Linked DNA regions of Homo sapiens: region 1 is linked to region 2. The links come from fine-mapping of genetic effects on gene expression. A gene starts in region 2. The other region holds a variant in brackets. All regions are shown on one strand. Distances are between the middles of the regions. Region 1 overlaps PLBD1 (phospholipase B domain containing 1). Region 2 holds the start of PLBD1-AS1 (PLBD1 antisense RNA 1).

What was found. PIP is the estimated chance that this variant, and not a neighbour inherited with it, causes the effect. A credible set is the group of variants that fine-mapping cannot tell apart.
Region 1: its variant is the best candidate, but not a certain one, in a credible set for the expression of PLBD1-AS1 in whole blood (TOPMed, PIP 0.76).

What each region holds. Positions count from the first base shown.
Region 1 is chr12:14,514,490-14,525,152 of GRCh38, reverse strand. All of the region lies in intron 6 of PLBD1 (phospholipase B domain containing 1), which reads left to right. Among named protein-coding and RNA genes, the nearest start is that of PLBD1-AS2, 10 kb to the left of the region's middle. The variant T/C (reference allele first, on the strand shown) is at 5,517.
Region 2 is chr12:14,561,470-14,572,132 of GRCh38, reverse strand. PLBD1-AS1 (PLBD1 antisense RNA 1) reads right to left here and starts at 4,401. Exons shown (of 6, transcript NR_120465.1): 1 at 4,327-4,401; 2 at 3,941-4,114. PLBD1 (phospholipase B domain containing 1) reads left to right here and starts at 4,250. Exons shown (of 11, transcript NM_024829.6): 1 at 4,250-4,551. The coding sequence starts at 4,437. RefSeq lists silencers at 4,380-4,489, 5,229-5,405 and an enhancer at 4,303-4,984.

The sequences.
Region 1 (10,663 bases), 47 kb after region 2:
GTAGCTGGGATTATAGGCATGCACCACTACACTGGGCTAATCTTGTATTTTTAGTAGAGATGAAGTTTCACCATGTTGGCCAGGCTGGTTTCCAACTCCTGACCTCAGGTGATCCACCCGCCTTGGCCTCCCAAAGTGCTGGGATTACAGGCGTGAGCCACCATGCCCAGCCACAATCTTCAGGTTTTCTAATTCCTTCTTCTGCCATCTCAAATTTACTGTTGAAGTATACAGTGAGTTTTTCATTTCATTTACTGTACTTTTCAGATCTAGAATTTCAATTTTGTTCTTTCTTTAATTTCTAATTTTATGTTGAGATTCCCTCTCTGGTAACTCTTAAAACCATATTTTCCTGTTTTGTCTTTGTCCGCTAAACCCAATATCAAGACCTACTTGGAAACAGTTTCCAGTGACTTAAGTGTGGGGTCGTACCTTCCTTTTTCTTTTGAGGTGACAAATATAGCAAATACCATGACTTGATCATTACACAATGTATATACATATTTAGTATATTCTTCACCGCAAACATTTATCAGTTCCTTATGGCAAGAACGTTCAAAATCCTCTTTTATAGTTATTTTGAAATATGTAACACAATATTGTTAACTGTAGTGCCTGGTAATTTTTGGTTGAAATGTGGACTTGAAAAATAGCACACCATAGTGTCTCTGAAATGTGTATTTTTGAGAATTATGTTTTATTTTATTTTTAAATGACATATAATTGTACATATTTATAGGGGACAGTGTGATGTTTTGATGCATGTATACATTGTGTAGTGAACAAATCATGGTATTTAGAATATTCATCACTTCAAACATTTATCACTTTCTAATGGTAAGGACATTCAAAAATCTCTCTTCTAGTTATTTAAAATATATAATATAGTATTGTTAACTATAGTAAGCCTACTGTGCAATAGAATACCGCAACTTTCTCCTTCTATCTAACTGTAATTTTGTACCTGTTGATTAAGCCCTTTCCACCTTGCCTACCCTCCCCAGCTGCTGGTAAGCATTGTTCTTCTCTATACTTGTATGAGATCGGCTTTTATAGATTCCACATCTGAGTGAGATTGTGGAGTATTTGTCTTTCTGTGCCTGGCTTATTTCATTTAACATAATGCCCTCAGGGCTCATCCACATTGCTACACATGACATAATTTGATCCTTTTTATGGCTGAATAGTATTCCATTATATGTATATGTATCATATTTTCTTTATCCATTCATCTGTTGATAGCCATTTAGGTTGATTCCATATCTTGACTATTGTGAATAGTGCTGCAATAAGCATGAGAGTGTGGATATCTCTTTAACATACTTATTTCATTTCCTTTGGATAAATACCCAGCAAGGGGTCTAGTTTCATTCCTCTCCATGTAGATACCCAGTTTTCCAAGCACCATTTATCAAAGAGAATTTTTTCCAATGTGTGTTCTTAGTGTCTTTGTCAAAAATCAATTAGCTGTAAGTGTGTGAATTTATTTCTGTATTTTTTATTCTGTCTTATTAGTATATATGTCTATTTTTATGCCAGTACTATGCTGTTTTGGTTATTATAACTTTGTAGTATATTTTGAAGCCAGGTAGTGTGATGTTTCCAGCTTTGTTCTTTTTGCTCAAGATTGCTTTGACTATTTGGGGTCTTTTGAGGTTCCATACACATTTAAAGATTTTTTTCTCTTTCTATGAAGAATGTCATTGGTATTTTGATAGAGATTGCACTGAATCTGTCAATTGCTTTGATTAGTATGGACATTTTTTTAAAAATTCCTCAAATCCGTAAACATGGAATATCTTTCCATTTGTATCCTCTTCATTTCTTATGTCAATATTTTATAGGTTTCATCATAGAGATCTTTCACCCGCTTAGTTAAGTGTTTGTTTTTGTAGCTGTAGTAAATGGAATTGCCTTCTTATTTTTTTCTGATTGTCTGCTATTGTCATATAGAAATGCTATAGATTTTTGTATATTGATTTTATATCCTGCAACTGTACTCAATTTACTTATTAGTTCTAACAGTATTTTGGTGAAGTTTTCAGGGTTTTCCCTGTATAAGATTATGTCATTTGGAAGCAGGGACAGTTTGATTTCTGCCTTTTCAATTTGGATGCTCTTTTTGTCTTTCTCTTGCCTGATTGCTTTGGCTAGAACCTCCAGTATTATGTTAAATAAAAGTGGTGCATTTGTGTCTTGTTCCAGATCTTAGAGGAAAAGCTTTCAACTTTTCCCCATTCAGTATGATGCTAGCTGTGAATTTGTCATATATGGGCTTTATTGTGTTGAGTTACATTTCTTGTATATCTGTTTTGTTGAGAGTGTTTATCATGAGGGGATGTTGAATTTTATTAAATATCTTTTCTAGATCAATAGATTCAACATCCCTTCATGGGTTTGTCCTTGATTCTGTTAATATGATGTATTATGTTTATTGATTTGCATATATTGAACCATCCTTGCATCCCTGGAATGAATCCCATTTATTATGGTGAGTGATTTTTCTTAATGTGCTGTTGAATTCAGTTTTTAAATATTTTTTTGAGGAGTTTTGTATCTAGGTTTATTAGGGATATTGGCCAATAGATTTATTTATTTGTTGTGTCCTTATCAGGTTTTGGAATCGGGGTGATGCTGGTCTCATAGAAAGATGTTGGAAGTATTCCCTCCTCTTCATGTCTTTTGAATAGTTTTCAAAGGATTTGTATTAGTTTTTCTTTAATGTTTGGTAGAACTCATCAGTGAGGCCATTGGGTCTTCGGCTTTTCTTTTCTGGAAGACTTTTTATTACTAATTCAATCTCATTACTTGTTATTGGTCTGTTCAAATTTTCTATTTCTTCATGATTCAATTTTCGTTAAGTTTTATGTGCCCAGGAATTTATCCATTTCTTCTAAGTTTTCATATTTGTTGGCATAGAGTTCTCTATATCTCTCTCAAAACTTAAGAAGTTTCTGCTATTATTTTGTGAAGCTTTCTGTGCCCTTCTCCATCTCTTCTCCCTCTCAAGTTTCTATAGTGTGAAAATGTGTTCACTTAATGGTGTCTCATAGGTCTTGTAGGCTTTCTTCACTCTTCAAGCAAAGAGCTGTCTTCAGTTCAGAAATTCTTTATTCTGCTTGGTGTAGTCTGCTGTTGGAACTTTCCATTATATTTTTTATTTCATTCATTAAAGTCTTCAGCTCCAAGAGTTTTTTTTTAATGATATCTCTGTTGAATTCTTTATTCATATCATGATTTGCTTTTCTGATTTTATTGAATTGCCTATCTATATTATCTTGAATCTCATTGATTTTCCTTAAGATCATATTTTTAAATTTTTTATGCAATTAGTAAATTGCCATTTCTTTAAGGTCAGTTATGGGAGAGTTATTGTGTTTTTTTGGTGGTATCATGTTTTCTTGCTTTTTCATATTTCTTGTGTCCCTGCACTGATGTCTGGGCATCTGATAGAATGGATGCCTCTTCCAGTTGTATAGAGTTGTTATCATAGGAAAAGATTTTTGCCTGCAGATGTGTCCTAAGGTGTCGGTTGTGGAGGATGCATTGGCTGTGGTTCCAGGTGGATGCAGTAGTGTAGTCACCATGCAGTTTTTTCAGCTGTAGTCAATGTTAGCAATTTCTATGGATGCCTCAGTGGCATCCTAGCCTGGAGGAGTTTGTATGGCAGCTCTGTCAAATCATATGCATGGCTTTTCTGCTTGTGGCAAGGGTGCCAGTTTGTTTCATGCGCCACGGGTGCACAAGGCCTACTCCAATAGGATTAGACACAGTCTGTCCTCTGGGGGCAGGAGTGCCAGGCTGTTACACACACCGCAAGTGCATAGGGACTGCTCCTTCAGGGTAAGGTGTGGCCTTCCTGCTGGGTAGGATCATCTGTTCCTTGGGCGTCAGGACACCACATGGGCTCAGGCACCAAGGTTATGGCTGTTTCACTGGGCCTATGCTCTGAGTAATTGAGGTTGAGGTGCTGTGCCACAGGGATGGGGAAGATGGAGTGCATCGTAGGCAGCTTATTCCTGGTGGATAGGAAACAGTAGCTGCTCAACTGGTGAGTGGTGTGCTACTGTTTACAAGCACAGTGTACTTGCAGCAGAGCCTCAGGATGGGGAGAAACAAACAGTGGTTACTGGCCCTCCAGAGCACAGTGTACTATAGTAGTGGCACCGGTCTCAAGATAGTGCTGTACATCAGCAGCTTAGATCACAGAGGAGAAGGAGGCACAATGTGGGCTCATTCTTTGGAGTAATACAGCCATGTGAATGCCAGGCAGCTCCCTAGAATGGGTTCATGACTTGTGAAAACTGCAGAATTCTCAAGCAGCAAAGACTGTAGGTGTTTGCATCTTTAATGGAGATTGCTGGGAGTTCTCCTGCTCACGTTTTCTCCGTAGGGAGACTGCCTCCTGGTTTCATACCGACCTTGACTGGGAAGACGAAGTGGCAAAGGCAGAATGTTTCATTCTCTTTTTTATGCAGCCATCCCAAGTCTCCATGCTCCACTGGGTCTCTGCCCCTCCCTTATTGTACTCCTTCGGAACACTTTAGTGTTCTCCTTTGGATACTCTAGTCAAAATGTAGTTGTTTATTCATCATTTTGGTTCCTTTTTTTTTGTAGGGAAATGAATGTTAGGCACCTCTAGTCAGACATCTTGCTGAAGTCACTTGTTTTACTTTTTTTGTTGTTGTTTTTAACAGGCAATTACCTTGCTTGCACTCAAACTTCAACATATGTCACCTGCACAGTGTGCAGCAACCAATGTCCTTCCTCAACACTGCTGCTTCAACCTGGTCTTCTGGAGGTTGCTCCTGCATCTGTGTAATTTAGCAGTCAGTGAAAGATGTTGGCAGCTCAAATTCATATTATAGAGCTAACTCTCTTTGTGATTTCCTTGATCCTAAGGTTTCCCCTATATTCCCATTTGCTTTTCCAGCTCTTACCTTTGTCCTCTGAGAGCCTGAGGAATTTGAGCTGCATATGAGTTGGGAACCCTGGCAGTGTAAGTTGCAGCAAACTCACCTATCTCAGTTCTAGAACATTTCTGTCTTACAAGGGAAAACCCTTCTCATTTCTTTCTGTTTTTACCCTGGGCTCCCTGGCATTTCCCACATTCATGCACAGTTAGTGGTCAGTCAGGGAACAGGACACAGTTCATATTCAGATTTTGGATCTCTGCTCTTCTTGTGGTTCTCTTGCTCCCAAAATTTTCCTCTTAAATTCTCAGCTGTTCTGCAATACTAGACTTTGATCTCACCATCTCAAGCCAGAATGGCTCTAGTTTTCCATAACTAGAGTTGGGTATGGGCTATATATTAGTTTGCTAAGGCTGCCATGACAAAGACTGGGTGGCTTAAACAACAGAAATTAATTATTCTCACAGTTCTAGAAGCTGAGAGTCCAAGATCAAGATATTGACAGGTTTGGTTTATCTCTTTGGCCTACAGATGGCCACCCTCTCACTGTGTCCTCACATGGCCTTTTCTCTGTGTGGGCTATACCTGGCATCACTTCCTCCT[T/C]TTTTTTTTTTTTTTTTTAAGATGATGTCTCACTCTGTCATCCAGGCTGGAGTGCAGTGGTGCGATCTCAGCTCACCACAACCTCTGCCTCCCAGGTTCATGTGATTCTCCTGCCTCAGCCTCCCAAGTAGCTGGGACTACAGGTGCATGCCACCACACCCGGCTAATTTTTTGTATTTTTAGTGGAGACAGGGTTTCGCCCTGTTAGCCAGGTGGTCTCGATCTCCTTACCTCATGATCCACCTGCCTCGGCCTCCCAAAGTGCTGGGATTACAGGCATGAGCCACCACGCCCGGCTCACTTCCTCTTCTTATAAGGACACCGGTCATGTTGAATTAGAGTTTGCCCATATGACCTCAGTTGACCTTAATTACCTTTTTAATGCTCTGTATCCAAATATAGTCATATTTTCAGGTACTAGGGGTTAAGACTTCAACATATGAATTTTGAGGAAACAGAATTCAGTCCATATCACGGGTTTAGGAATACACACAGGCAAGGAAGCCTCATACTCCATCTTAACCAATGCTGTACTAATGTTCTGTTTCTCTCTGCCTTTGGTCATTCCTAGTATCTTCAGATCATTGCTTTAAATAATTTTATACAGTTTTATAATTATTATTTGTGGGAAAATCACTCAATTTTATCATGCTGCTATTATTGGAATACTCACCCTTGATACGAGCATTTTTTTTTTGGCTGGGTAATACATAATACCCTAGTGCTTTTCATATTAACAAAGAGTAGCACAAGAGCTCCTTTTAGAAGGTTTTACTAACCTTCAGGCCAAGTAAGTTATCTCTCCTTTGAGCTTCCTAGGTACCCTGTGCATAATTTCTTCAAAGCCCATATTCTGTATTCATGTCTGTGTCCCAGGATGAGCACAGAGCCTTGCATATTATAATCATTGAATAAATATTTATGGAAGGAAGGAGAAAAGAAGGAAGGAAGAAAGAAGGATTAGAGGGAAAACAGTAAGGAGATAGATTATGTCCACTTTGATGTGGACATGGTAGGAACTGTAGGAAAGAAAGACGGGCAATAAAACAAGGAGGAGGTGGGGGCTGCCTAAGAGATCACAGTTCTTATTGTAACTTGCTTTCTATTCATCCTGCCCTCCCTTTCATACCCTAGATTTGAGAACAGGAGTCTAAGATGTTCAGGAATTGTAAGCAAGGGACTTCAGATGCAAAACCTATGTGTTCAGCACAGGACTTGTTACTTGAAGCAAATCCTTTGTGATAAATAACATGAATGGGACCTGACTAGTTTTATGGGAATTAGGCAGAATTTAAGTTTTAAATAAATTACTATAAGCTTGTTTGTGTTCAACTAGTTATTAAATAGAAAGGAAAACAAAAAACCTGAATATGTGTTTAGCCCCTACCATGTACCTGGCTCTGTCCCTGACACTGTGCACATTTTGTTTTTGTCTGTTTTGGGGGTTTTGTTTTCTGAGACAGAATCTCACTCTGTTACCCAGGATGGAGTGCAGTGGTGTGATCTCAGCTCACTGCAACCTCCGCCTCCCAGGTTCAAGTGATTCTCGTGCCTCAGCCTTCCAAGTAGCTGGGATTACAGGTGTGTGTGACCACGCCCGGCTAATTTTTGTATTTTTAGTAGAGACGCGGTTTCACCATGTTGGCCAGGCTGGTCTCGAACTCCTGGCCTCAAGTGATCCGCCTGCCTCAGCCTCCCAAAGTGCTGGAATTACAGGCGTGAGCCACTGTGCCAGGCCAACATTTTGTTTTTATTATGTCATTTAATGTTCATAAAAACCTAACAAGAAGGGTATTTTTAAAATCAGTTGTCTACCATTAACTTCTAGTATTGTATTTTCTTAACAAGCATACAAAACATCAAACTTCTCTTTAGACAAAGTGCAGTTCTTTGACATCCTTTACACAAAACAGTCTGAGCCTGTGGCATGTTAATGCAGTCGAGAGGCAAAGCATACTGACTTTTACAAATTCTGCCTTCCATAAAAAGCCTCAAGGAGGGTATTTTGTCTGCATTTTTAAAATAAACAGTTCAGAGAAGTTAAATAGTCAAACAGGTCAAGGTCACACAATTCAGTGGTTGAGGACTGGGTGCAAAGGCAATATATCTAACTATAAATATCCATTTCTTTTTTTTTTTAGAAATGATGCAGTTTGGATTTAAATTAAATGGCTAAAACTGAAAGAGCCGGCTGGGTGTGGTGGCTCACACCTGTAATCCCAGCACTTTAAGAGGCCAAGGCAGGAGGAGCGCTTGAGCCCAGAAGTTTGAGACCAGGCTGTGCAACATAGCAAGACCCCCGTCTCTACAAAAAATTAAAAAATTTAGCCAGGTGTGGTGGTGCATGCCTGTAGCCCCAGCTACTCAGGAGGCCTGGTGGGAGGATCCTTTGATCCTGGGGGTTTGAAGCTGCCTTGAGCCTTGATCACGCCACGGCACTCCAGCCTGGGCGACAGAGCATGGCCTGTCTCAAAACACAAACACAAACAAAAAACTAAAAGAGCAGTGAACTCAAAGGATTTCCTGCCATGCCAGGTGGGTGGAGCTTCTATGTGGGAATAAAAGATGGAACCTATTTAAAGGACTTTTTTTTTGTTTGAGATGGCGTCTCACTCTGTCGCCCATGCTGGAGTGGAATGGCGTGATCTCAGCTCACTGCAACCTCTGCCTCCCAGGTTCAAGCGATTCTTGTGTCTCAGCCTCCCAAGTAGCTGGGACCACAGGCGTATGCCACCATGCCCTGCTAATTTTTGTATTTTTAGTAGAGACAGGGTTTCTCCATGCTGGCCAGGCTAATCTCGAACTCCTGAACTCAGGTGATCCGCCCTCCTCTGCCTGCCAAAGTACTGGGATTACAGGCATAAGCCACCTTGCCTGGCCTCAAAGGACTTTTAATTGAGGATCCCAGTAATGATGATCCCCATAAGGCTGAGGCTTCAAGCTTAATGATCTATAAGTGAGGCTTTCTGGGATGCATTTAGTGTGTTTCCCCAAGCGTGTGTGTGTTCCTACTTCTCATTATATACAGGTATGCTATCACCTCCCCCATACATGTATACATACCTCTTAAACTTAGATGTTCCCCAATTTTTCCTATGGAGCTTGCTAAAAATGCAGTGTCATCCATAGAAATTCATATTTCATTGATCTGGGCTGGGACATTTGTAACAAGCACCCTAGACCATCCTAGCATACTGAATCCATAGTCCATCCTGTTTGTGAGACTATGGCAGCCCTTGTGGTCTAAGCAGCAAAATCTTTGCTTAGCCTTTTTTGTTGTTGTTGTTTGTTTGTTTTTGTTTTTGTTTGAGATGGAGTGTCGCTCTGTCACCGAGGCTAGAGTGCAATGGCGCGATCTCGGCTCACTGCAGCCTCCGCCTCCTGGGTTCAAGCGAATCCCCTACCTCAGCCTCCTGAGTAACTGGGATTACAGGCGCGCGCCACCGTGCCCAGCTAATTTTTGTATTTTTAGTAGAGACGGGGTTTCACCATGTTGGTCAGGCTGGTCTCAAACTCCTGACCTTGTGATCCACCTGCCTCAGCCTCCCAAAGTGCTGGGATTACAGGCGTGAGCCACCGTGCCCGGCCTTGTTTTTTTTTGAGATGGAGTCTCGCTCTGTTGCCCAGGCTGGAGTGCAGTGGCCAATTCAACCTCTGCCTCCTGGGTTCAGGCAATTCTTGTGCCTCAGCCTCCCAAGTAGCTGGGACTACACCACGCCCGGCTAATTTTTTTTTTTTTGTATTTTTAGTAGAGATGGGGTTTCACCATGTTGGTCAGGCTGGTCTCAAACTCCTGACCTCAAATGATTCACCACCCACCTCGGTCTCCCAAAGTGCTGGGATTACAGGCATGAGCCAGCTTGGCCTTTTTAAATATTAAGTGCATGTACTTGAAAGTAGGTACACATGAAGATAAAAGAATAGGCTCCAGGAAAATTTAAGTCAAGTCTTCATAATCTATAAAATTGCCTATTTAATAAATATATGTTGTAAACATTTTTAATGTTCTGTAATTACTGTTATTAATGTCATGTTACCTCTTTGATCTAGGTACTTTGGTCATAAAGCTGAAGTATATAAAAACAATCTATATTTAGTACAGACCAAAATTCATGTCCTTTGCTTTTAAAAGGTAGAACCAAGAAAAAAAAAGCAATAGCAGAATACGGGCACGTATTCTAAAGAATTATAAATGGATTTTGCAGCACTTAATTTCTGTTTTTTTTTTAAGTACCTTTCTTTGATTCTTTGTCTCCTCATTGGTACCATCCCAGAACACTGATGTCTTCTGCCAGATCAGACCTGTCTTGATCATCTTCCCCACCTAAATCAGGATGTGTCCTCCCTTCTACCTTTCCAGAAATCCCACCTTAGTTTTCATACTTTTCTTGATTAACTGGTCATAAGATGATTTCCCTCAACTCCACCCTGTCTCAACATGCAACTCCCCATGAGTCAATCTTCATAATTGTTTCTAATGTGTTTGTTCCATGGTGTGTGTTGAGTAACTGTTGTTGCCATTTGCATGACTACATAGTGGTTACTGTTTATTTCTGCAGTTTGGTGTTTTTTTTAAGTCTTGAAATAGGATTTATTAACCGGAAGTGTTTCTTTTTATTTCTTAATTAAATTCAGTGAGAAGCTTATCATGAAATGTTATTCTTAGGCTGGCATTCATAAAACACTGGAGTGTTTCATTTTCTCCTGATCTCAATCTGCCTTCCAAAGCTGCTAATGACAGATGAGAGCAAGATTATAATTTTAGTTAGGGTGTGGTGGCTCATACCTGTAATCCCAGCACTTTGGGAGGCCAAGGCTGGAGGATCCCTTGAACTCTAAAGCTCGACACCAGCCTGGGCAACACAGGGAGACCCTGTCTCAAAAAAAAAAAAAATTTAAAAAGATTATAATTGTATGTAGTCAAAGAAATGTGTTTCTTTTCAAAGGCAATGTGTCAGAACTTTGTCCCATCTCTGGGCCTTTTCTTTATTATCTTAAACTCTAAACTATAGAATTAGCCTCCTCAACTATAGTTTTTGCAGGCCAGTTCACTCTCCTTGCTCTAGAACTCTGGATAGCCTATATATTTCCATCATCCTGTCTCTTTCATAAAGAATCTTGCCTTTAAATGAAAGACTACTCCTTAA
Region 2 (10,663 bases):
GCCACTAAGCCAAGAGTATGACTCACAGAGTAAATGTCCCTTATTTAGTACCAAGTCAATACATAAGCCCCCGAAGCTAAGGTCATCCTTAAGGAAAAATGGTAAGGACATAAAGAAGGCAAAGGACACTAAGGATTTGGTCCAAATGAAATTGCGCAACCTTAAATCTGGTATTTAAAAATTTTTACTGGTTGGACTCACACCTGTAATCCCAGCATTTTTGAAGGCCAAGGTGGGAGGATCACTTGAGCCCAGGAATTTGAGACCAGCCTGAGCAACATAGTGAGATCCTGTCTTACAAAAAATTAAAAAAAAAAAAAAATTACCATCAGTGGATGTGTTTGAATGCTAAGTTAATTACACTTTTTTGGAAAAGAAACAAATTTACATTTTGGATATTTCATTCTGGAACTGTAACTGTAAAATTTTCAATCCACCACATACATGTTACAGCAAGGAAAGAAATATAGAGGCCAATAGAGACCACTATCTTTGTTTCTGCAACTGGTCACCTGGCTATAGATAATTATATGTGACTTCTCTTCTCCACCTTTTTTCCATGTTCCCCTTGCTTTGGGCCAGCAACTCAGCTGCTGGGATTCTTTGCCCATTGGGATGAGGAGTCTGAGTCCCCAGTGGTGCTTCCCAGGTGAGATTATGCTCCCAGTCCTTTCATTTTGTTTTGGTTTTGGTTTTTTGAGATGGAATCTCTCTCTGTCATCCAGGCTGGAGTGCAGTGGTGCGATCTCAGCTCACTGCAACCTCTGCCTCCTGGGTTCAACTGATTCTCCTGCATCAGCCTCTCAAGTAGCTGGGATTACAGTCATGAGCCACTATGCCCAGCTAATTTTTGGTATTTTTAGTAGAGACGAGGTTTCACCATGTTGGCCAGGCTAGTCTCGAATTCCTGATCTCAAGTGATCCACCCAACTCGGCCTCCTGAAGTGCTGGGATTACAGGAGTGAGCCACCGCATCCAATGCTCCTACTCCTTTTGATAGTAAGGCAAAATTACCAATACTACAATCCTATTCTTAACCATTCAAACATATTTTTATGTTTTAAGAGGAGCTCAAAAAAGACCAATTGCAATTCAGTAATGCACTTTCAAATTCCAATTCAATAATACTTCCTTATTGTGTCTCCTGGTAGAAACACCTCCACCCTTGGCTCACCAAAAGTTGGCATTCCTGCACCAAAAGTTGGTACAGGAAGAGAATAATGGACGCTGAGTAGCCCCAAACCACACAAGTCCATTATAGAAGTGATGAGAACATTTCGCAGCTGGCATCTTTGGTTCTCCTCATTGCAGCTTTAGTATGTGAATCCAAAAAATCTGAGACAGGTCTCAGTCAATTTAGAAAGTTTATTTTGCCAAAGTTAAGGACACACCAGGGCCACAGCCTCAGGAGGTCCTGACAACATGTGCCTAACGTGGTCGGGGTACAGCTTACTTTTATACATTTTAGGGAGATATGAGACATCAGTCAATACGTGTAAGATGTACATTGGTTCAGTATGGTAAGGCGAGACAACTCAAAGTGGGGTATTCCATGTTAGAAGTAGAAAAGAGACAAAATGTTACATTCTTTTGAATCCTTGATCAGCCTTCCACAGAATACACAACTTAGTCTGGCCCAGGGAGTCTGCATTTTTACATAAACAATACTGCAGAGGAAGCAATCAGATGTGCATTTGTCTCAGGTGAGCCTCAGAGGGATGACTTTTAAGTTCTGTCTTCCCTTTGTCCACAGGGAATTTCCTTGTGGGCAAACTGTGAGGGAGGTATGTAGCTTCTTATCTTTGTAGCTATCTTATTTCAGAATAAAATGAGAGGCAGGTTTGCCTGACATAGTTTCCAGCTTGACTTTTCCCTTGGCTTAGTGATTTTGGGGTCCCAAGATTTATTTTCCTAACTATGTGTGAGTTTTGCAGCTCATTTTCCTCCCAGATATGTAAAACTGGCATAATTTAAAGAAAGCAAGATTTATCATCTAATTCAGTGATTCTCAACTAGGGGGCAATTTTGCCCCCCTACGGGAGCATTTGACAATGTCTGGAGACATTTTCAATGGGGGTGCCACTAGCATCCAGTAGGTAAAGGCCAAGGGGTGTCCAGGACAACCCCCCCACAACAAAGAGTTGTCTGCTCCAAAATTTCAATAGTGCTGATGTGGAGAAGTCCTGATCCAATTAATTTGTTTATATGTATAATTTGCTCCCCACTACTGGAATGCAAGCTCTGCAAGGGCAGGGACTTTGTTTTGTCTACTGCTCTGTGCTTGGAACATGGGAGTCAACGAATATTTGATGACAAATAATAGATGAATGAATGCCTCAAGGTTCACATTAGGCATTTATATGCATCTTACTTCATCAGAACACTTGGCTCCTTGGATCAGAAGGGTTAGTAAGGTGAAGGAGGGTGGTATAGGGCAATATGACTCAAATATTTGGGGTGGCACCACTTCCTTGAACATCCTAATGTGGTTCTCTTCCCATCATAACACAACCAAAATTTTCATTTTTGGTTCATTTTAATTTTCTAACTTGAAGGAAAATGTGCAACTTTTACAATGTCCTCGATGTCTTCATTTTAATTTTTCTTCATTTAAATTTTCTAACGAAGGAAAATGTGCAACTTTTACAATGTCCTCGATGTCTTCGTTTTAATTTTTCTTCATTTTAATTTTCTAACTTGAAGGAAAATGTGCAACTTTTACAATGTCCTCGATGTCTTCATTCATTAAATGCCATTAAACATAATTGTGACTTTAATTTTAATTAAATAAAAATGAGTTGGAGTCTCCCTGTGTGGCACAGGCTTGTCTTGAACTTTTGGGCTCCGGTGATCCTCCCACCTTGGCCTCCCAAAGTGTTGGGATTACAGGCATGAGCCATGGTGCCTGGACCACAAAATTGTGACTTGTGTTTCACAATTTGCACAGAGATTTGATGAACTTTTAGGTTCTTTATCTTTTCTAACAATTACATTTTCCCCGTTATGAAAGGTACTGCTTATTCTCTCTTCTCATCTCTCCTTGACACCTAGGTTAAGCTTAGAAGAAAGGCCAAGAGGAAGAGTGGGGTGCTGAGGTTCCCATCTGAGAGGTGGCTTGTTCCCTCCTTCCCCCTCTCCCACTGCACCTTAAACATAGCTCTAACACAGTAGAATGGCAAGTTCTGTGTACTTGTTTATCTATATGGCTTAGTTCTTTTTTAAAAAAATTATTATTGTTATTATTATTATTTTTTTTTGAGACGAATCTCGCTCTGTCGCCCAGGCTGGAGTAGAGTGGCGCGATCTCGGCTCACTGCAAGCTCCGCCTCCCGGGTTTACGCCATTCTCCTGCGTCAGCCTCCCAAGTAGCTGGACTACAGGCGCCCGCCACCGTGTCCGACTAATTTTTTGTATTTTTAGTAGAGACGGGGTTTCACCGTGTTAGCCAGGATGGCCTCGATATCCTGACCTCGTGATCTGCCCGCCTCGGCCTCCCAAAGTGCTGGGATTACAGGCGTGAGCCACGGCGCCCGGCTGGCTTAGTTCTTTTTGTCTGTGGTGAGGCATGCTCTTAGCTGTCTTTATATCACTGGTATCTGGAGTATAAGATGGGCCCAGCCAATGCTGAGTGAATGAATGAAATGCCTTTTGCCTACTTCACAATGTCACCTAGGGCACCCGGTGCCAACTTCACAATATCACCCAAGGCATAACTTTTGACTACTTCACAATGTCACTTTTAACTGACCCCACACAGAAATGGGGACTCCACAGAAACGTAGGAGTGTGTCTAGTGTCAGCCCCGTCTGAATCACTCTCCTGTGGTGGCTCCAGCCAACGAAGAGGAAGCAAAAAGGATAAAAAATCTGAGCTACAGCGCATGGATTTAGGTTAAACAGCCTGGGAATGAGGGGTACGCTAATCGCTGAGGAAAACGCACCTGTGGAGGCCTCTCCAGAAACAGCAGAGGATCCGAGCTGCGTGTAGGCAGGGCGCGCATGTCACCCTGGCCCGGGCGCCTGGTCCGCTGCTGGAGATAAATGGTCGACCCCGGAGGGAGAGGCTAGTAGGGGTGTTGATGTGAACTGATTCGCCCAAGCCTTGGGCCGCAAAACTGCGAAAGAAAGCGGCAGGCAGCCTCTGCATTTCCCAGAAGTGCAGCTGGGGAACTTTCCCAGACCGGCCCAGGGGTTGCTAGAGGGTCAGACGTAAAGGATCCGCCTTTCCTAGGCGGGGTGGGCCCCAGGCCACCACGTGAAGCGTCCTCGCCCCTCAGAGCCCGGAGCAGGCCGGGCTCAAGAAAGAGGAAAGTTGAGGACGCCCCACCTCGGAGAGGCGGCGCCCCTGAGTAGGCCAGGAGCCTCTCTTGCAACTTCTGCCACCGCGGGCCACCGCGGCCGCCTGATCCCGCAGAGGAAGGTCGCGGCCGTGGAGCGATGACCCGCGGCGGTCCGGGCGGGCGCCCGGGGCTGCCACAGCCGCCACCGCTTCTGCTGCTGCTGCTGCTGCTGCCGCTGTTGTTAGTCACCGCGGAGCCGCCGAAACCTGCAGGTGAGCAGAGCGCGCCCTGGGCGGGGGGCGCCCGGGGAGGCTCCTAGGAGCCTGTTAGCGCCCGTGCCCCGCGTCCGGCCGAGTTGACGTCCAGCGGGCGTCTGGTTCCTGGGTGAACTCAGAGAAACGCGCCTCCGGCCGGCGGTCTCGCTCCAGCCCTGCGGCTGCGCAGCGAGGGCACTTGAGAAGGGCATGGCGAGTGCGTCTGCCAACTTTACAAGTTTTGGCCCGAATTCTTGGCCAACAAATCGGTTCGCTCCTGCGCCGATTCTTGGCCCACAGAGCCTGGGCTGGTCTTAAAAACTCCAGCCAATGGGCATCTAAATATATTTATCCAGATTGTAGGGAGGTATGGTTCCGGCTTGCCATTTGTTTTGTGTTTTAAAAATTTACATTGACTTTGGCTTAAAATCACGATTGCACGATTGTCAGTTTGATACGTGCCTGGCAGTGGGCTTAAGGGCCTTTTGGTTTTGTTGTTGTTGTTGAGACAGAGTCGCTCTCTGTGGGCGACGCTGGAGTGCAATGGTGTGATCTCGGCTCACTGCAACTTCCGCCTCCCGGGTTCAAGCGATTCTCCTCCCTCAGCTTCCCAAGTAGCTGGGATTACAGGCGTCAGCCACCATGCCCAGCTAATTTGTGCATTATTAGTAGAGACGAGGTTTCACCATGTTGGACAGGCTGGTCTCGAACGCCTGACTCGGGCGATCCGCCTGCCTCGGCCTCCCAAAGTGCTGGGATTACAGGCATGAGCCACCGCGCCCGGCAGTTTTTTTTTTTTTTTTTTAATATATAATCCTAAATAGGATTATATTCCCCATTCTGCAGATGAGAAAAGTGAGATTGATCAGAAGTAATTCGCATAAAGATAACACAGCAAATAAGACAGAGTTAGGGGATGCCAGAGGGCATTTTCTTAACTACTTCCCTCTTGGAAAAACAGGTTTTATCTCTACAGGTATTCATGCAAATCTACATCCTTTGCCAAAATTAAATTAAATTAAATTAAAAAGCCTTGGATTTATGATTTCCGTTCCTAAGGAGGTGAAGATTATGAACTGTAACTAAGGGACTTGAAAGAATTCTAAAGTAATAATAAGAGAATTAATTTTGTCTTATTTCATAATCCCCTTTTCTGTGCTGACCTTGTACAAGAGTAGGGTGGGGCTTGGGGGAGGATGCCCCTTCCTAAATATGTGTACTGATTCTTATTACACTACCTTCCATCATCAAGAGCCTTCGTTTTTGAGACTTGCTTAGTTATCACTCTTCAATCTTAAATCTTTCCAGTCTGTGGGATCAGATGTACCCACAGGCTCCTGACTCGTGATTTTCTGTGTTCTTTGCCTAAACTATGGAGGTGGCCTTGGTGTCTACTTCTAGTCTAGGGAGACAGCTCATTCAGAGGTACCTGGGGGAGGCTGGGGAGGGTCCCAAAAGTGGAGGTAGCTTTTGTGTTTGGAATGCTGGCTAAAATCTTTATTCCTTTTCTGTTTTTTTGGACGAGTGAGATTAAGTGTTTTTGTAGGTGGAGGGGGCAGCCTGAGGAGTGAGACAGGCGTTGTTTTTCTGAAGATGGAGCACTATTTATTCAAGAAGGTACCACCTTGTAAGAAACTGCATCTTAAACAGTTCCTCCAACAGGAAGCTGACTCCATGCTTGGAGGTTCTGGAGCCAAGGCAGAAAGTAAGGACATTTCTGAGATGAAGTGATCCTGACAGCACCATGCCCAGCAATCTGGAAAGGATTCTTACTTACCTAGGTGTTAAGGACATCTGGTGATGCCACACTATTTCAGCAGATGAGATCTCTGTTTCCTTTGTCCTACCCACATTAATCTGTTTTCCCTTGAGGCTTTTTGGGTCTTTGTCTTTACCCTTCTACTAGCCTGCGAACAACCAAAGAGTAAAGAACTGGGACTTGCTACCTCTCACTTGTCATGTGTTCTCTGAAGTACCCAGCTCAGTACCCTGAACTTAGTAGGAATTCAGTAAACACTAAAGGGATTGCATGTCCATCCCCTTGGAATGGATTTTATATCCACTCATATGCATCTATCTATCCAAAAACAACTTCTTCAATTTTTAATTTTACTTTTTTTTTTTTTTACTATTATTTCCTATTATTTTTATTTTCCCCCCAGGCTGGGTACAGTGGCGTGATCTCGGCTCACTGCAACCTCCACCTCTTTGGTTCAAGCAATTCTCCTGACTCAGCCTCCCGAGTAGCTGGGATTACAGGCACACACCACCACGCCCAGCTAATTTTTATATTTTTTGTAGAGATGGGATTTCAACAGGTTGGACAGACTAGTCTCGAACTCCTGGCCTCAGGTGATCTGCCCGCCTCAGCCTCCCAAAGTGCAGGGATTACAGGTGTGAGCTACCATGCCCGGACACTTTTAGTTAATTCTTGCATATTCTTCAATTTGTAAAGGTTACTCTATAGTTTTATTATTCCAGAAGTTGACAAATAATTGCACAGTCATTCTAGCCAAATCTTTCAAGCTATGATTTCAGACATATGGTGTTGCGTTTATCTTTCCAGACCAAAAGCCCCATAATTGATTTTAGAAGGTCCTTATATAATTTTTTCTAAGTGGTATGTATAGAGAAGTCAGGTGGTCACTAGAGAAATAAATCATACCTTTATCTGGTTCTGAAAAAGTTTAACATCTTGGAAGTCATTCAGTCTCCATAAGGTGATTTGGCAGACCTATGATTGGAGTCAGTTTCAGTTGATCCTTTAACTCTGCAGACATTCTTTTAGGGTTGGCTGCTGAGAGACTCATAATATGGTATGTATATTGGTAAAACTGGTTCAGAATCTGGCCCTCGGCCTTGCAGGGCTAGACTCCAGAAATTCAGTCTTTCTACTGCTCCATATCTGATCACAGCTAAGAAAGCTGATTCACCCTGATATACACCCAAGTCTATTCATCAGACTTAGCATAATTTTTAGTTAGAAATATAACTGTCAGGCAGACTGGATATTTGTGAGGTCTGCTCTAGGCACTTTCTCACTGTAATCAAACCACATGGGGGTAGATAACATCACAGATTGTCAGGCTGGAGGCCTGATTTGTCTGTCTCCTGGTAGGCATCATACACTTGAGTCAGCCGAGAGAGTGCCCCTCCACTGCATGGTGCTTGCCTAGCATTGCTGGTCCCTGATTTTGGGACACTGCCTTTTCCACATTGCCATGGCTTACCAGTGTCCACTTGAGAATAACAGTTAATACCTTTATCTGGTTGTCAAAAAGTTTAATATCCTGGAACATTCAGTCTCCATAAGCTGATTTGGCAGACCTATGACTGGGGTCAATTTCAGTTGCTCCTTTAACTCTGCAGACATTCTTATTTATTCATTTATTTGGAGATAGGGCCTTGCTCTGTCACCCAGGCTGGAGTACAATGGTACGATCATAGCTCATTGCAGCCTCAGAGTAGATGGGACTACAGGTGCACACCACCACACTTGGCTAATTAAAAAAAAAAATTATTTGTAGAGATAGAGTCTCACTATGTTACCCAGATTGATCTCAAACTCTTGCTCGCAAGTGATCCTCCCACAGGTTCATTTCCCAAAGCCCTGGGGTTCAGGCGACCGCCACTGCACCTGGTCTCTGAGGACATTCTTATTTCCAAATTCATTCGACATAAGGCCTCACAGTTGCTCAGTATGTTCATTCTTTACACGGAAGTCCTTCATTCTTGGAAGTATAGTATTAGAGAGGTAACACAGAATTCCAGCAAGAGGAAATCCTTTGGAACCCTAATGCCTGTGTTTGAAGCCTGACTCCAACACTTGCCATGTGACCTTTAGTCAGTTATTTTCTCTATATGTACTTTGGTTTCCTCAACTGGAAGATGGGTATTATAAGTGTCTCTATCTCATGGGGCTGTTGTGAGAAACACTGTGCCTGACATGCAGTAAGTGCTGTATAATTGAGTGGCCACTGAAGTTGTTTTTCTCTAAAAAGTTATCATGTCTTGATAAGGCAGGCAGGATTGAAGATGATAATCCATGTGCTTTGAAGTAATTTTTTTTTTGTTGTTTTTTTGAGACAGAGTCTTGCTCTGTTGCCCAAGCTGGAGTGCAAAGGCGCGATCTTGGCTCCGTGCAACCTCCGCCTCCCAGGTTCAAGTGATTCTCATGCCTCAGCCTCCCGAGTAACTGGGATACAGGCATGCACCACCATGCCTGGTTGATTTTTGTATTTTTTGTAGAGATGAGGTTCACCATTTTGCCCAGGTTGGTCTCAAACTCCTGGCCTCAAGTGCATCGCCTGCCCTGGCCTCCCGAAGTGCTGAGATTACAGGTGTGAGCCATCGTGCCCAGTCCCAACTTGAACATTTTCTTGTGCTCTCCCTTTATCAACTTGTTTGCATAATGTACACAAGATAAATTCCAGAACAAAGTCTGAAGGAAGTGCCCACTTATCTTCATTATTAAACTTTGTTTCCTGGTCCTTCTGAAAACATAAATTTGGTAGCAAAGATAAAAATCTTTAGAAGAATATTTAAAAGGATCCTCCTTCAGTGTTTACATTGAAGTAAAACAATTTTTTTAAAAAAAATTCATGGTGGCTTATTTTTATAATATATATGCTAAGAAACATATGAACTTTGTCTTGAGTGTTGACATGCAGAAAAGAAATTTTTGTTTTCATACTTCTTTAGACATGAATTTTACATTGTCACTTGTTATCCTTTGCTTTTGTTAGATTTCACATTATAAGGCATTAACTATGGAGACAGCAAAATAAAAGAGGTAGTGGTACCCTTCATGGAATAAAACCAAAGGGATTTATTTTCTTCAGCATTTTAAGTAATTTTTATGCATTTAGGTTTTGCCTTTCAAAAAAATGGAATGGAGTCTAGTTTATACAACTTATATGTTACAATCTTTCGAACATCCAGCTTGAAAATGTGACTAGAAAATGTGTTAATAATGTTATTACGGAGCTTCTTTTTACTACTGCAAAACAGGAATTAATGTGGTAAAAAATGAAATAGAGGTAGTGAAATTATGGGGAAATTTTAGCTTAAGACTTGAAACACTGTCTACACAGATAACATAATCATGTTCAGTTACAGTCTTTTTTTTTTTTTTTTTTTTGAGAGGGAGTCTCACTCTGTCACTCAGGCTGGACCGCAGTGCTGCAATCTCAACTCACTGTGACCTCCACCTCCTGGGTTCCAGCGATCCTCCTACCTCAGCCTCCCAGGTAGCTGGGATTACAAGCATGTGCCACCGCACCTGGCTAATTTTTGTATTTTTAAGTAGAGACGGGAGTTTCACCATATTGGGCAGGTGGGTCTCAAACTCCTGACCTCAGGTGATCAGACTGCCTTGGCCTCCAAAGTGCTGGGATTACAGGCATGAGCTACCACACCTGGCCATGATACAGTCTTCCTAGAGAAAACTGTGGAAGTCTCTTGATTGAGAGAGATGAAAACAGAATGAGCACTTCAACGAAAGAGACAGGCTGGCTCTGAAATTTGTCCATCTGCCTTGCATATGCAGTAATAATTTCAGCATAAGGGAGTGTCAAGTTATTCACACCGGTGTTATTCTCTTTCAGGTCATTTGCAAACCTAGGACACCAAAGTTCTAATTCATAATTAGAAATCGAGAATGACTGTACTATCAAGTTTATATAACTTGATAAAGTCTGTCACCAGGTGTGACCTTCCCAGCCAGTGTGAAAGTTTGGGATCCAGGCCAGGTGCAGTGGCTCACGCCTGTAATCCCAAGACTTTGGGAGGTCAAGGCAGGCAGATCACCTTAGGTTGAGAGTTCGAGACCAGCCTGACCAACATGGACAAACCCCGTCTCTGCTAAAAATACAAAATTAGCCAGGTGTGGCGTGGCGCACGCTTGTGATCCCAGCTACTCAGGAGGCTGAGGCAGGAGAATTGCTTGAACCCGGGATGCGGAGGTTGCGGTGAGCCGAGACCGTGCCATTGCATTCCAGCCTTGGCAACAAGAGCGAAACTCTGTCTCAAAACAAAAGAAAGTTGGGGATCCAGGTGGCCACGTAATCCATAAAGCATTGTGCTAGGCCCAAGGGAGTGGATACAATGAAATGTGAGACTCCACCTCTCA